Regions from separate parts of the Homo sapiens genome. Here region 2 is linked to region 1. The links come from fine-mapping of genetic effects on gene expression. Tissue or cell type: whole blood. Region 1 holds a variant in brackets; the other region holds the start of a gene. All regions are shown on one strand. Distances are between the middles of the regions.

What was found. PIP is the estimated chance that this variant, and not a neighbour inherited with it, causes the effect.
Region 2: it holds the start of DENND4B, and the variant in region 1 is fine-mapped to the expression of DENND4B in whole blood (TOPMed, PIP above 0.99).

What each region holds. Positions count from the first base shown.
Region 1 is chr1:153,640,543-153,648,646 of GRCh38, forward strand. CHTOP (chromatin target of PRMT1) reads left to right here. Exons shown (of 6, transcript NM_015607.4): 4 at 1,704-1,887; 5 at 2,685-2,822; 6 at 4,522-5,764. The coding sequence ends at 4,727. Among named protein-coding and RNA genes, the nearest start is that of CHTOP, 11 kb to the left of the region's middle. The variant C/T (reference allele first, on the strand shown) is at 4,731.
Region 2 is chr1:153,943,139-153,951,242 of GRCh38, forward strand. It overlaps DENND4B (DENN domain containing 4B), which reads right to left and starts at 3,580. Exons shown (of 28, transcript NM_014856.3): 1 at 3,163-3,580; 2 at 920-1,259. The coding sequence starts at 1,236. It overlaps CRTC2 (CREB regulated transcription coactivator 2), which reads right to left. Exons shown (of 14, transcript NM_181715.3): 12 at 5,977-6,246; 13 at 5,320-5,506; 14 at 4,537-5,191. The coding sequence ends at 4,971. RefSeq lists enhancers at 1,832-1,931, 2,252-2,301, 2,770-3,270, 4,082-4,151 and a silencer at 2,792-3,691.

The sequences.
Region 1 (8,104 bases):
GCCTGGGCAGGTGGATCACCTGAGGTCAGGAGTTCAAGACCAGCCTGGCCAACATGACAAGACCCCGTCTCCACCAAAAATAAGCCAGGCGTGATGACAGCTCCTGTAATCCCAGCTACTCGGGAGGCTGAGGCAGGAGAATTGTTTGAACCTGGGAGACGAAGGTTGCAGTGAGCCAAGATCGTGTCACTGCACTTCAGCCTGGGCAACAGAGCGAGACTGTATCTCAAAATAAAAATAATTGAAATAGCCACATGTAGCTATAGAGGCTGCCTTACACAGCACACCTCTAGAAGGGAAACTAAGTGGTATAGTTGACATCCTTAACTTCCCTGTTAATATTAAAGGCCGGTATTGGTGGCACTTAAGGATTGGAATGGGTAAAGAACTTCCCAGCACTGTACAGTTCTTTTAAAGCACAAAGCTTGGGAGAATTAATATATGCAGGATAACTGAACGCAAGAGACTTGTGGAATGCAGTTCTAACCTGATAATTGTGTGTTAATCGGGAGTAACAGGACAGGCCGTTACGGTTGGTTACACCTACTTATGCTAGATGCATAATGTTTGGAGCCTTCCCCACTGATGAGAAGCAATTTATGATCTTGTGCTAGAAAGTTAATAATGCTTCACAGCATCTTTTTGAGAGGTTGATTAGAAAACACACACATACACGTTGGTAGTCACTTGTGGGTGAAGCCTGAAGGGGCTATACAATTTATTTTCTTTCAGATTGACTGATGGCTTTATGGACAGCCAGGCTTACTAGGAGCTTGGTTGTGTTCAGGGCTATTGCTGTCCCTTTTTCCTTTGAAGGAATTTAATTCTCTGAGATGTAGTCTTAATGGTTTTCTTTTGAGAACAGATTCTTAAAAATACCCTATCTCTGTAGTGTGTCCTTGTTCTTATATATGGCCCTGAGTTTTGTGATCACCTGAATAATTCTAACATACGTTTGGCTGGCTGACTGTGGAGATACATTTGAGTTACATGTTTATTTTTAATTTAAGGTCATCATTGTTTTAAAGGAGCTGTTTGCAAGTGCAGGCATGGAATTAGGGATTTTTAAGAAATGTAAGGAAAGGAGATTTGACTTTCTTGTGTTTATTTACATCTTAAGGTAAAAAGTGGACCGTCTGGAAATAGATTCTCAGAGGAAAAATGGAGCACACGGGCCTTTTTGAGAAATCAATCTTGTTCTTAAGTCACAAGAACTCAAGTGAACTTGTAATTTAAGTTTTGCCCAGAGTGTGATGAACTTCCTATGGTGTTTGAGTAAGCCTTTGAAGACAGTGGTAGTCCATGGGCAGGTATGAATCAAGTCATATAATTGTCAACCTGTAGTTCAAAAGCAGTACAATCCAGGATTGAACTATAGAATGTTCTTACGAAAACTTAAGTTTCAACTGGCAGTGTATGACTTCTGTAGCCAAACTAGTGAGGTAATTTGTGGAGATGCCCATTTCATGGGACCACACTTGAGCTTCTTGGAGTTTCTGCTCTGGATCAAAATTCTGCTGCTTGTATAACATGTTCTGAGGCAAAGGCTTGCTTCTGGTTTGGGATCCTTTTGACACCCACAACAGGTTTATCTCCCTTCACACCAGCATCTCACTTGCTTCTTTTTCTCTGCACTTTGAGTTGCCAAATCCTGTTGGATTGCTTTTTTGATCTCAATCCCCTAACACCTTTTCTTCCAGAAGAGCTTAAAGCAGCGCCTGGGTAAGAGTAACATCCAGGCACGGTTAGGCCGACCCATAGGGGCCCTGGCCAGGGGAGCAATCGGAGGACGAGGCCTACCCATAATCCAGAGAGGCTTGCCCAGAGGAGGACTACGTGGGGGACGTGCCACCAGAACCCTACTTAGGGGCGGGATGTCACTCCGAGGTCAGTGCTGTGTACCCTGATAATTGTCGGGCCCTACTCCCTTCCCTTTTCTCTTGGGCTGCTTATGGACACGTTTGTTTAACATCTTTAAGCCTGAATTTGTATTAATATAATAACTTCTGAAATCACATATTTTTAATAGTGCTGCATGTCTTTTATCAATACCATTCCTTTTCTGATAATGTGCAATGGTGAGAGGCTATGACCTGCGTAACAACAGGTAATTCATGTCATCTCCATTCCATTTTAAAACACCCTGCTGTTGCTTGAATCAAAGCACATTCAAGTTCTAGAAACAAGTCAAACATAAGAAATTTATAGGTCTTTTGGCCTATATCTCTTTGTTCCTGGTGCTAGTAAAACACTGATACAGCTGGAAAAAGAGGACAAGTTGACCCACAGCACTTACCTATATATGTTCATTTGGGGCACTATTACTCTGTTCCCTGTATAGTTCTTGTTCCCTAGAAGAATCTGTTGAGATCAGGAACCATAGCATTTATTTTTAAATTTACCATAATGCTAGGCATCTATCTGATTATTCAGTAGATATTTATTAAATGTATGTACTTACTAATTGAATTAACTCCCAACTTCCAAAAATGGATTTGTGGTCAGACTTGTTGAATTGATTGAATAAAGAGTAGCTTAATCTGTTCACAGTATGCAGCTTGCCCCAGCCAACCTAAAAACTAACTGAATTACCTTCATTTAACCCTCACCGCCTTCCTTTGGTTAGAATCTACTTTGTGTCTCTTGGATTTACCTGCATATACATTGTATGCCTCCTCTCTAAGGTCAAAACCTGCTCCGAGGTGGACGAGCCGTAGCTCCCCGAATGGGCTTAAGAAGAGGTGGTGTTCGAGGTCGTGGAGGTCCTGGGAGAGGGGGCCTAGGGCGTGGAGCTATGGGTCGTGGCGGAATCGGTGGTAGAGGTTAGTCAGCTACCAACTTCAGAGAGTAGCTCCCCCTTACTTTCCTCCCTTAAAAACTCAGAGCCACCTTTCTGCACAGCTTCAAGTCATAGGCAGGCTTCTTTGTTTGTCTTGTTTTGTTATTTGAAACTGGCTTATTTTTCAAATTACCATGCTGGTAGTGCAAAAGTCTCATGATTTTTCCAAGAATCAATCAAGTGCATATTATAGAGCCAGATTATATGCCATCTTCCTCCAAGCTCTTGCAAATTTAAATTGTATAGTTGAAAATACCCCCCAAAATGGTCAGTTTAGGGTTTTGCCTTTCTCTGCCCCTGTCCCACCACCATCACCACCACATACCACCCTGTAGCTCCAAATCCTGGTTTGAGTCACATGAGAATATAGAAGAGAGAGAGAGATACAAAGATGAAGTAGAGTTAAGAGGGTGGTGAGACTTGGAGCTGGGCATTGGCTCTGAAACCAAATAAATTCAATGTCACATTTGGTGCCTGTGGAGAACCAGAGATGACTTTTTTTGCTTAAGGTAGAGAGCAAGATGGAATTATTATCAGTTAACTAACTGGCTCTTATTGATAATCTTGCCTTTGAAATTTATTGATGTTTGTCTTGTGACCTCATGACCCAGATTGGGAAAGAGTTTAATGATGTTGCTGCTGTTAATACTAAATCTCATGGGAGCCTTCTGGTTTAGAGCTTAGTGGAAAACTCCCAACACCTGTCCAGAAAAAAAACACTATTGAAGCCCCTGTGTATATTTGCTTTGGTTCTCTTAAAAGGTGTCTTGGGTCTTCCATAACTTATGACCTTGAAGTTGCCAAGGAATAATAACTGTTAGGAAAGAAAAGTTGATAACCAAGGGCTTGTTTTCTTCTCTCCCATTATATGATACTTACTGAGTGAAGTGCAAGCTAGTTTGGGTTTCAGGATGAAATAACATGTTTCCAAATTATCTTGACTTGGATCCTGAGAGACATCACGAGGGTGGGAGAGACTAAAATAGCTTTTCAAAAAGCTGAGTTTGTTTTGTTAACTGAATTCACACTGCTTCTCAGATAACCACAATTGTCAGTTGTCATAAGGTAACTAGAATTAAAGGTAGAAATAGCTAGGACAACTCAAAATATTTTTTCAAATCTCCCCTACATTGTTCCTGTGTCAGAAAAACTCAGTCTCCTGACACATGAGGTCAGCTAGCTCATTAGACTTGATAAGTTTAAGGACAGGTGAGATGACTTTCCAGAAGGGTCTCCAATAAACTTAATTTGAAAACTGTCTTGTCTTCACACCCCTGATGCTCTGTGCTCTTGTTACCACCTCCCTATCTTACCAAATGGGGTTATCTGTCATGTATTTTAATTATGAACTTAGTGAATCTCAAATGTTAGGTAATTTTATCTTAGGATTGATTAAGGTTTTTTAAAATTATAGTTGCCAGTTAATTATTTTCCTTTATTGATAGAATAAAATTTGTTAAAATAGCATTTAGAGATGATCATGTGATAGAGGATTCATTATGTGTGCTTTCCATGTGTTGCTTTCTACCCATTGTGTTTCCTTTTTTTCCAGATTTCTCCTCTTTGCCCTGCCCTTCAGCTTTTCTCAGCTAGGCCCCACTGCTCTAAGGGGCATTTACTACAGCACCTATTAAACTTACTTGTAACTGTCTCTTTTTTTTTTTTTTTCCCCTTTGGGCCAGGTCGGGGTATGATAGGTCGGGGAAGAGGGGGCTTTGGAGGCCGAGGCCGAGGCCGTGGACGAGGGAGAGGTGCCCTTGCTCGCCCTGTATTGACCAAGGAGCAGCTGGACAACCAATTGGATGCATATATGTCGAAAACAAAAGGACACCTGGATGCTGAGTTGGATGCCTACATGGCGCAGACAGATCCCGAAACCAATGATTGAAGC[C/T]TGCCCATCCTCCCATGAGAGACTCTTGTTAGTCAACACATCTGTAAATAACCTTGAGATAACAGATGAGAAGAAATCTGATTGATGCTGGATGGACCTATCACAATAGGCTGTGGACTTACTTGCCACCAGCTTGTGCATTTAGTGTGTTCCTTTTACTTTTTGATACTGTGTTGTATGAAACCCTTTTGTCCTTTGATTTGGTTTTTTGTTTTTGTTTTTTTAGGGGGGAGGGGGGGTTTCCCCTCCTTTGCCCAGACTTCTCTTTGAACACAAATGCATTAGCCTTGTGGCTAGAACACCCTCTTCCTACCTCTGTCTCCCCTCACTTGTCATATGCTCTGACATGCTAACATTTCTTTTGTTCATCCCTGTTGCCCCCACAGAAACATCCCAGAAAAACCGGTCAGTGTTCCTTCCTCCCTGATCCTTAGGTTTCTGAAATAGGGTTCTGTTACATCCTCTTCGATAGCCTGTTTAAAATGTTTAGAAGGTCTGGAGCTCAAAAATGCGTTCTTCCACATTGATAATTTAGTAAACTGAGAACATTGACATCACTACAGGGCAGCATAAGAGGTTGCTTACATGTGGTAGCAGCTCTGGTTTGATTCAAGTTGCTACCATGTACATTGACAGCACATATACCATAACCAGCGTGTTGGGTTGAATTGCACTTTCTACCTTTGTATGAGATTTACAGACTTTCCTTCTGGGTTTGTATCATGACCAGAGGGGTACTATAGGGTTGGTTTATACTGCAATATAGAGGATCAGAAGCCATTTGATTTGGTAGGTGTGTCAGAAGGGAGAATGATGGCAGACGAACTGCTGGAAGAGGTCAGAAGATAGCCATGCTAAAATGCAATTATATCCTCATGTTTATCCCAAACTAATCTTGGACTTTTCCACTCATTAGCTTTGTTTTGCCCTTGTTTCCCTTGAAGGTTTAAGTTCAACCATATTCTGTCAACTGTTCAGTTTCAGTGGAATCTTGTATTTCTGGTTCATTATAACAAACTGTTCGCTTAAATCCACCCAGGACTCTCTTTATTTGAGGTGCCTCAAAATGCCATGGCTACTTTAATGATGTTTTTTTTTTTTTTTCTTGTGACCGAGTCTCGCTCCTGTCACCAGGCTGGAGTGCAGTGGCGCGATCTTGGCTCTGCAACCTCCAACTCTCTGGTTCAAGCGATTCTCCTGCCTCAGCCTCCCGGGTGGCTGTGACTACAGACATGTGCCACCACACCCAGCTAATTTTTGTATTTTTAGTAGAGATGGGGTTTCACCATGTTGGCCAGGATGGTCTTGATCTCTTGACTTGGTGATCCACCCGCTTCAGCCTCCCAAAATGCAGGGATTACAGGCGTGACCCACTTTCAGCCTCCCAAAGTGCAGGGATTACAGGCGTGACCCACTGCACCCAGCCACTTTAATGATGTCTTGATATACCCCTTGTATGGTTGAGAGTTTCTTTCTTCTTACTTGTGTTAAAATTCTGGAGAGCCTGTGGCTTTGAGCAGAAAGTGAAGAATTTGACTTCCTCTGAGCTCTGCAGAAATAACACCACGCCCACAAAAACTCAAGGAAGATTGTCTTGGGCAACATTCTGGGCCCTTGGGCCCTGGCACATATTTCCCTTTTTCCCTATGTTGAGAGCTGAAGAGAAAAGAACCTAGTAGCGCCCAGCCAAGCCAGTTGTCATTGGGCTGCCTTTCACCCTAAACTGCCAGGAGGTTGTACTTACTGGGGGCTGGGAAGGAAATTTTGGTCAGGACAACCCAAACTTGAATCCTGTGATGTGGGGTGTCTGTAGGTCCCAAGGGAGATGGGCAGTGGGGGTCTAGCAGAAGGCTACAGGTTGGACGGTGACTGCAGAACTGAATCCCCAGTTCAGCTCCTTCTGCCTTTTCCAGTGCTAAAGCATGAGGACTTCCCCTCCCAGCCAACCTCCCCAACAACCCAAACAAGTGCAAAATGCCAGGCTCCCTCCTACCCCAGAGGAGACTGATGCTTAAGAGTTCTCTATAAAGGAGGTGACTGCCGTAGCCTAGGCTTCCTTCCTTCTACCTCCATGTCCTTCCTACTTCATTGAAAGAATTTATCCCCAAATCGCTTATGTGGGGCACAGGGAACTCTCCTATCAGCCAAGGGTCCTCCAGCCCCACCTACTGCTCACTACAGTTCCCAGGGTCTCCTGAGGCCTGTGTCCCTGTCATCCTCAGTCACTGGTCGTGTGGGACAAGGTGAGTAAACCTGACCTCCTCTGGGTCAGCCTTTCATTCAGCTGCCATGTGCTGAGGGCTTGCCATACCAACACAAGGCATCCTTTGTAAGGGTAACATTAGGAGCATAGGGAAGAGGTTGATGAGCTGGATCTTTTAAGACAAGGGAAAGTAGAGAAAATACACCAAGCAGAGGGAACCAAGTGTAAAGGTACAGTGCTAAAAGAACACCTGAGGCTGGGCACAGTGGCTTACGCCTGTAATCCCAGCACTTTGGGAGGCCGAGGCGGGTAGATCACCTGAGGTCGGGAGTTTGAGACCAGCCTGACCAACATGGAGAAACCCCGTATCTACTAAAAATATGAAATAAGCTGGGCGTGGTGGCACATGCCTGTAATCCCAGCTACTCGGGAGGCTGAGACAGAAGAATCACTTGAACCCGGGAGGCGGAGGTTGCAGTGAGCCGAGATGGCGCCATTGCACTCCAGCCTGGGCAACAAGAGTGAAACTCCATCTCGAAAAAAAAAAGGTGGTCCTGCTGCTATGAATAGATAGCTCCATGGACCCAGCAGGGGTTAGGGTAGAGGCTCCCACTTATGCCTCGGTGGGCTCTCCCACCTGCGTCACACCCTGGCTAGTGACCCAGTCAGACGTGCTGGGGACCCTGGCTGACCACCTGTACCAGGGGCAAGGAAGGAAGGAGAGGGGAGCATTGTGAAGCAGGGCAGGATGACTCTTGAAGGTGGAGACAGGCCCTGGACAGCTCTGGGACCCTTAATGGTGGCAGCAGCCCCCAGTCATAGGCCTCATTGTGTGGGCAGCCTGGGACAGCTAAGATCCCCATGAGGTCTCTTTAAAGGATTCACTAAATGCTCCATTTAGTCTTGGTTTGTTTTTTTGTTTTGTTTTGTTTTTTGAGATGGAGTCTCGCTCTGTTGCCTGGCTGGAATGCAGTGGTGCAATCTTGGCTCACTGAAAACTCCAACTCCCTGGTTCAAGCAATTCTGCCTCAGCCTCCTGAGTAGCTGGGATTACAGGCATGCGCCACCACACCCAGCTAATTTTTGTATTTTTAGTAGAGACGAGGTTTCACCATGTTGGCTAGGATGGTATCGATCTCCTGACCTCGTGATCCATCTGCTTCGGCCTCCC
Region 2 (8,104 bases), 300 kb after region 1:
AGAGAGCAAAGATAGATGTTGAGAGGTCAGGGTAGAGGACAAAGACCCAATCCTGCCAGATCTGCCTATCTAATCCCCTGAACTTGCCTTGTACCCACAGCCTTGTCAAACTCTAACACTAGGGCCCACCTCTTCTTGCTGAACTCTGCCCTCCAGAATCCTGTGCCCTTTCTTTGGCCTTTGGCCTTATTTCATGGTCAGCAACAATCCTGCATGCCTTCTATGGCTCTCATACTCATTAATAAACACTAAGGGTCAGCTGGGCACGGTGGCTCATGCCTATAATCCCAGCACTTTGGGAGGCCAAGGCAGGTGGATCACCTGAGGTCAGGGGTTCAGGACCAGCCTGGCCAACATGGTCAAACCCCATCTCTACTAAAAATTCAAAAATTAGCTGGACGTGGTGGCACATGCCTATAGTCTCAGCTACTCAGGAAGCTGAGGCAGGAGAATTGCCTGAACCCAGGAGGCGAAGGTTGCAGTGAGCCAAGATCACACCACTGCACTCCAGCCTGAGTGACAGAGAGAGACTCTGTCTATAAAAAAAAAAAAAAAAAAAAAAATAGTTATACAAGCTACCACTGACTGACTCTGTTAAGTCTGTCACATGGGTTATCTCATTTAATCTCGACCATCCTATGAGGATGAATTATTTTCCCCATTTGACAGATGAGGAAAACAGGCCCAGAGGAGCTCAAAAACCTGCCTAAGCTCTCAGAGCTAGCAAGGAGCAGCACTAGCACATGAAATCGCATCTGTAAGGACTAAGTACATACAACTTCAGTCCTTCCTTCCTGGCCCCTGGCCCACCAGGCTCCCATCCCCATTGCCCTTCCCTTGTTCCATAGTCCTACCTCTCCCTGTCTCACTGGAGTCCCTCCCAGCCTCCCCTGGTGCCAGCATGGGTAGGGGCACACACCCCAGCTCAACGAGGGGGGGCTTGTCACGGCCCCTGCGGTAGCAGATGACGGGTTGAGTTCCACCCAGAAGTCCAGCACTGAGTTCCAAGGGGTGGCCCCCAGCAGAAGCCTGGATGCATGTGTAGCCCTGGGGCACTTCCTCGCCCAGTGCCCTAGCGATGACTGCCACATCTGTGATGGGCTCAGCTGGCCGGGGAGGGCGCAGGGGCCCACTGGGTTCAGGAACCCACGTTTCCTCAGGGATGGGTGCTCCGTTCCCTGCAAGCCCAGCTACCACGAAGTAATCCACCAGCCGGGGGGGCCGCTCCTCCGCCATGGCCCCCCCCTCACTCACTGCATCTGGAATGGTCAAGTGGGAGAGAGATGAAGCAAGGAAGGCTGGGGATGCCATGGCAACCAGGGTACCCTCTTGCTCCCCTCCTCTTCCTAGTCCTTCCAAAGAAAGGCAGGATAAGGGGTCGGCCAATCCTGAACTCTTCCCCCTGTGACATCACTGCCCACCACAGCTTCTTAAAGAGACCAGATCCCTCCCACTTAATGGTCCTGGCACTCCCCTCAAAGAACCTAAACTCCACCACACACAGCTAACCTGAGCTATGACATTCACATTGTCCATGTGTCCCTTTTAAAGGCTCACCAGTTATAACATCACAGAGATCACAATCTTTTTTGTAATAGCCTTCCATGACATCATTCATGCTGGCCATGACATCATACCAACCTTACAGTCTTTTCAAGGGTTTCTGACCTTCCTACTCTAGTTATGACACCATAAGAACCTTGTGATCCTGCCAATGTTCTTAAAGAGCCCACTCCTAGGTTTTTAAGAGGACCCCATGGGTTTCTGAGAAAGCCCACAAAACCCAAGCTTTAAGAGTCTTTTCAACGAACCCAAGTGTCCTTTCTCCTAGCTTAACTCCACCAATCTGGCCCAAAATCCAGTGTTCTCACACCTCCAGGATCCTTAGGTAGCTCGTTAGATCCAAAGCAGTTGTGAGAGACAAGTCCCGGCCATCCCACACCCTCCACCATGGAGCCCAGAGACAGAAACAGGCCCACAACAGCCTAGTTCTCACCTGCCTCCATGGCCCAACCCCGGGGAGTAGGAGCCCCAAGGGTCCTGAGGCGCCCCAGGGTGCAGAAGCTGGGAAAAAGCCTGGTGGGTAGCTCGCAGCAGGGGCCCAGAAGCGTGGGGGGTGCTTCAGAGGGGAAGGGAGGTTACTTCCTGAAACAGTGGAGGGGAAGCTGCAACTCAGAGGAAGTCAGCCTATGGGTGTGTGTGGTGGCGGTGGCGGTGGTGGGGTTACCATTGAAGGTGCCAGCACAGCATTACGCCAAGTTGGAATCTCAGACTATAGGATCCTGAGCAAGGCAGAGGAGGCTCAGAATGGTTCCAGGATGTGCAGTCCTGCTAACCTCCTGCTGTTCCCCCAGAGAACAGGGAATAAGGAATCTCATAGAGCCAGGCTGGCTTTCTTCATCACCTGGCCTCTGGACACACACACACACACACACACGCACACACACACGCACACACGTACACACACCAACCCCAGCTAAATTTAGACTCCACTTCTGGGAGGTAAAGCCAGGAGTCAGCGTCAGCCTCTTGATTTAATTCTGGGGCACAGACCTGTCCCTCATCCACTGAGGGCGAATGGGAGCCCTATGCCCAAGGCAGCAGGCAGAGGCCATTAGGTGGGACCTTCTGAGGGGCAAGTGGGTGGCACCCATCCGCAGGACCTGCGCACCGGGGCCTCCCCTCACCAAGCCAGGGAAGAGTCCTGCAGAAAGCAGCCCTTTCTCCCTAGGGAAGACAACGGGCACAGGGCCCACTCCGGGTCCCCACGCCCGCGTGCCGGGTGACGGGAAGTTCGGGTTGGGGCAGAGGGCGCGCCGAGGGGGAGGAGGCTGAGGAAGGAGCAGGAGGGCAGAGAAGCAGGCGCGCCGGCGGCCGAGGACGTGACGGCAGCAGCGCCGGCCGCCGCGTGACCCAAGCGGGAGGGAGGGCGGCTCCGACTCCGGCACCCACGGGAGCAGAAGGGGGTGCAGGAGGCCGGGCACGGCGAGCTAATTGCGGGAGGTGCCCTCCCCTCCACTTTCACTTCCCCAGGAGAGAGGAACCGGAACCAGATGTGCAGTGAGGGACAGCAGCTGGGGGCCATCCCCCACCCCGCCTGCCGCCCGCGCTCCCTCCTGCCCGTCCCCGCCTGCCGCCCAGCCCGGTCCAGCCCCTACCTGCCTGTCCCGCGCTTCCCGGCCGGCCGGCCCGCTGGCGGGTGGCTCGGAGGGCGAGCTGGCGGGCCGGCGGGCGGCGGGGCTACCCGGCCCCAGACATGGCGCACCCGACTTGGGCGCCGCTCCCGCCCGGGCAGTGAGTGAAGGAAGAAGAGGCGGCCGAGGACCGCAGAGCGCGGGGCGCAGTGGAAGGAGATCCGGGCGGTCCCCGCGTCCCCGCCGCGCTGCGCCACGCGGGGACTGTGCTGCCGCGCTGCTCGCTCGGCCGGCTCGGTCCTCCCAGCTCCCGCGGCGCCGGGGACCCAGCGTTCCTCCGCGCGCCCCGCTTTCTCTACTCCCCCAACCCCCGCTCCGGGCCGCGGGCGCCGCCGCTACCCCCACCCCTCCTCCTCGGCCGGCGGCCGTGACCCTGGCAAGCGTCTGCCCAAAGCCCAGCCGCCTGCAGCCCGACCCCTGGCGGCTGGGAGGGCCCCCTGCACCCAGGTAGCTTCCCACCATCCAGCCCGTGCCTCAGGACACTGACCCCAGGCGACCCAGAGGGCCGCGGCGCGCTCCCTTCCCGCCTGGGTCCTGCAGTCAGATGTGGCAAGCATGATGTGGGCGCAGGTGAAGTCCCGAAGGTCTAGTCTACGGGGACCCAGGTGGCTCCCCCTACTTCCAGGTTTAGGGCACAGGGCATTCCCTTTGGACCAGAACCAGAAGCTCTCAGTTCTCTTTTTTGAAAATGACAAGAGCTTTGGAAAGAGGAAGAGAGGCCAGGACTGCAGGGTGTGGAATAGAGCAGTGGAGGTGGGGGTAAGGTAACTGCGGGGCTCTACTTTTCTCACTATGCGGGTTGGGGGAGTGAGGGGTGCAGAGGCCCACACGGCTGGTCCAAGGGCTGGCAACCCAATCCAGAAAGAGAAAACCTTCAGAACATGCATGGCACTGAAGGATCTGTTTAATTAAAACTAAAATGAATGAGTGGTGAAGAGTGGAGAGGGTGAAGTGAATGCATGCATAGTGAGGGAGTGAGGATGAAGGCTTGCTTCCCTGAGACCTAGGAGCACTTCAGACCTGTGGGCTCAGCCAGCAATCACCTCCTTACCCGACTCACTGCCAGACCTAGGGTTGAGGAAGAGGAATAACTTGTCTGATCAGTCAAAGCCCCCATCTGATGCTGCAGCAGGGCCCTGGACAGACAGGAGGGCACATGAAGTGATTTCCTGCTGCCGTGGAAGCCTACATCCAGCTGGGTACAAATTCCGAGGCTGTGGGGCCCTTCCACAAAGCACAGTGGTGCTAAGAAGATGCAAAAAGCCTAATAGATAAAAAGACCCATGGCCCTATAACTCCCTAGATCCCCAGCCATGCCCCAAATAACTAACCACACCAAGGGTTTGATATGATTTTTTTATTAACATATAATAATATATTTAATAAAAAATAGTATCCACTCTGGCTCTCTCCTCCACTGCAAGGGGAAGAGTGGTGAGGAGGGGCTGGCACTGCCCACCCCTAGGCATCCGGAAAAGCCCTGCTTCCAGGGCTCCCCTCTACCCCTGCTTTCCAACAGGCTCTGACCTCCAGACAGACGGTTCAAAGTTACAAGTGCTTTAGGCCCTCCCTTGAGTTCCCCCAGGCCCATCCCTTGCGCAGAATTCAGGGGCCACCTGGACAAACCCCTTGCTTTTTCTCATTCTTGGCATCCTTCATTCATGCTAGAAAGAGGATCTGGGGACAGAGAGTAGAGTCTCTACCTGCCAGGGGGAAGGGAGGAAAGGAATGGTGGTGGGGGATGGGGCCAAGAAGAGGGATGGTGATGAGGTGCCCTCATTGGAGCCGGTCACTGCGGAATGACTCCTCCACAGCAGGATCAGGCAGCAGGGCACAGGGGTCACTCAGCATGTTTAGCCCTTCCAGGCCCAGTGGCTCCATGCGCAGCTCATCTTCTAGCCCAAGCCCTAGCTCCAATCCAGCTGCTGACACCTCAAAGCCAGGCACTCCGGCCAGGGCTGCTGCAATCTCCTTAGAGAAACCTGGAGAGGAGTCCCCTGTGGGTAGAAGAGACAGGTGAGGACCCCATGTCCTGTAAACTTTTCCAAGACCCCTCAATCTCCTACTCATTAGTGAATGTGTCACTTCCTCCTTCCATTTCCCATCACCACCCACCCCCATTCACCTGTGAGGATGATGTTAGGCCCTGAGCCATGGCGGGAACAGTGGGTCAAGTTCTGGTGGTTGAAGGTGTGGGGATCCTGGGGGCCACCCATTGGCCCCTCACCCCCTAAAAATCCAGGCCCTTCAGAAAAGCCAGGGGGATCCAGCACCAGGCTGGCTGATGGGCTCTCCATGCTGAACTGCTCCAGCTATAGACATACAGACAAATCTTTAGGAAGTAGGATTTAGAACTGGTGTCCTGCCTAGCCCTGCTAACATATCCCCTTTGCCCAGCAACCTTCATCCACCCCAGGAACAGAGGCAATGACAGAGGGAGGTGGCAGCAAGCAGAGCGACAGAAGCGAGCACGGGGCCCGAAGTAAGTATGGGCACCGTACCTGCTGGGCCAGAGCATGTGCATGCCAGGAAGAGAACGGGTCAAGGCAGAAGTCATCAAAGAGCAAGCTGAGCAGAAATAGAGGGGCAGGAGTAGGGTCAAACGCAGGAAGAGAGGAGCCCCAAGCTGGCAGTGCTATGTTACCTCCGGGGAGAGGAGATCTCCCCACCACCCACCCCACCTAGATCTCCCCATTCACAGTGCACCAGCCATGCCATTCAGGCCCCATTGACCCACCCTCACCCACTCCCCTGCTTTTGAGCAAGGAGCCTGAGTACTCACATTCCCCAGGTTGAAGTCACTCATTGGCCGGTGGTAAGACTGTTGCCCATGCCCACTGGGCCCAGGTGGGTACGGTGTCCCATAATGAGACTGCCTGCCTGGGGGCTGCCCACCTGAGGACTGCACTGAACAAGACTGAGAGGGCAGCCCTGGCTGCTGTAGAGACTTTGGGGTGTGGGGCTGGGTAGGCAGAACCAGACTTGGGGAGCTGTATGGGTATGGGGGTAACCGCTGGTCAGTGGACAGTTTACTGGTATCCAGGGGGACGCCCTGAAAAGAAGTAAAAAGAGGGAAGCTTACTGCTCAGTGTATACCCCAAGAACTCTCAGTCAGAGCTTCCCACCTTCTTTAGCTACAACCATTCCCAAAACAAACATGACAACATTCCACATTCTCACGGGCATCCCTGGGGTTGAGTGCAGTTACTCAACCCCAGGGATGTGTATTAGTTGGCAGGGTGTGGTGGCTCATGCCTGTAATCCCAGCACTTTGGGAGGCCCAAGGCAGGTGGATCACCTGAGGTCAGGAGTTCGAGACCAGCCTGGCCAACATGGTGAAACCCCGTCTCTACTAAAAATATAAAAATTAGCTGGGCATGGTAGCAGGCGTCTGTAGTCCCAGCTATTCGGGTGGCTGAGACAGGAGAATTGCTTGAACCCAGGAAGTGGGAGGTTGCAGTGAGCCAAGATCACACCACTGCACTTCAGCCTGGGCAACAGAGCGAGACTCCGTCTCCAAAAAAAAAAAAGTGCCTATCAGAATGAAAGTGATATAGTGAGGCTAACACAGGGGTAATTTTAAATCTACTCCAGAAGTAAACTATTCTCTTTTTTTGAGACAGGGCCTCACTCTGTTGCCCAGGCTGGAGTACAGTGGTGCAATCATAGTTGGAACTGTAGCATCAACCTTCCTGGTTCAAGTGATCCTCCCATCTCAGCCTCCCCAGTAGCCAGGACTACAAGCGTGCGCGACTGCACCTGGGTAATTTTTTATTTGTTGTAGAGACTGGGTCTCACCATATTGACCAGGCTAGTTTTGAACTCCCGCCTTGGCCTCCCAAAGTGCTGGGATTACAGGCATAAGCCACTGTGCCTAGCCTTAGAAGTAAACCATTCTTAAATCTTGATACTTGAACTATTTATTGTTAGTAAATAAGGAACTAAGGTTGAGAACTGCTGTTCTACAGCCTTGAAGAGGCCAGAGGGGGTGGGAAAAGAAAGAAAGAAAAGGAGAAAGAAAGGAAGGGAAGTCAAGCTCACTCCACACTCTGGGAACAGAGCCCTTGCTAATCTGGCCTCAGTCTTTCCTACAAAAGAGGGGACCTGAGTAAAGATGGAACACAGAACACACATTCCAGGGATAGCAATGGAGGAGGAAAAGTTGGGCAGAGGAGAGGGAAAAGAGCATTTGGATGAAAGAAAAGAGGAGTAGAGATAGAGAACAAGAAGAAAAGGACAGGAAGGGAGACAAGGGCTAAGAATTTCATCTCTGTGGAAAAAGCCCTAAACTAAGAGCTTCGAGTTCTAGTCTCAACTCTTCCTAACTTGCTGGGTAAACTTGGAAAAGTCACTTTCCCTCTAGGTCCCACTTTCCTCATCTATTAAGTGAAGGAATTGGGCTCCACAGTAGGAAATTGACTGATTCTACGAATTCTATGAAATTAGGAGGGGATACAGGGGAGGAGACGGGACAAGATAGAGGCATGAGATAAAAGACAGATATAAAACAGACAGGAACAGAGGAGGCAAATAAAAGGAAAGGGTAAGCTACTATTTGTCAAGCATACCTGGGCTATGTGTGGTGCTAAGTATTTTATGTATGTTACTTCATTTGATCCTTATGAACCATCCTTGTTTTAGAAATGAAAATACTGAGGCTTATAGAAATTAAATAACTTGTCCAAGGTGACTGCTAGTAAGAGGTGGAGCCAGGGTTTGAAGCTAAAAAAGCTTAACCACAGCGTTTGGGTTTGCACTGTGAAGCAAGAGGAGACAAGATGGATAAAAGATGGGGCAGGCGGAGGACAGAGGAATGGAAGGGGATGAGTATAGAGTAGGTATTTCAGGAAAGGAGGGTGGGAGGGAAACAACATGGCAGGAGAAAAGGGAAGGGAGACAGACATGCAGGG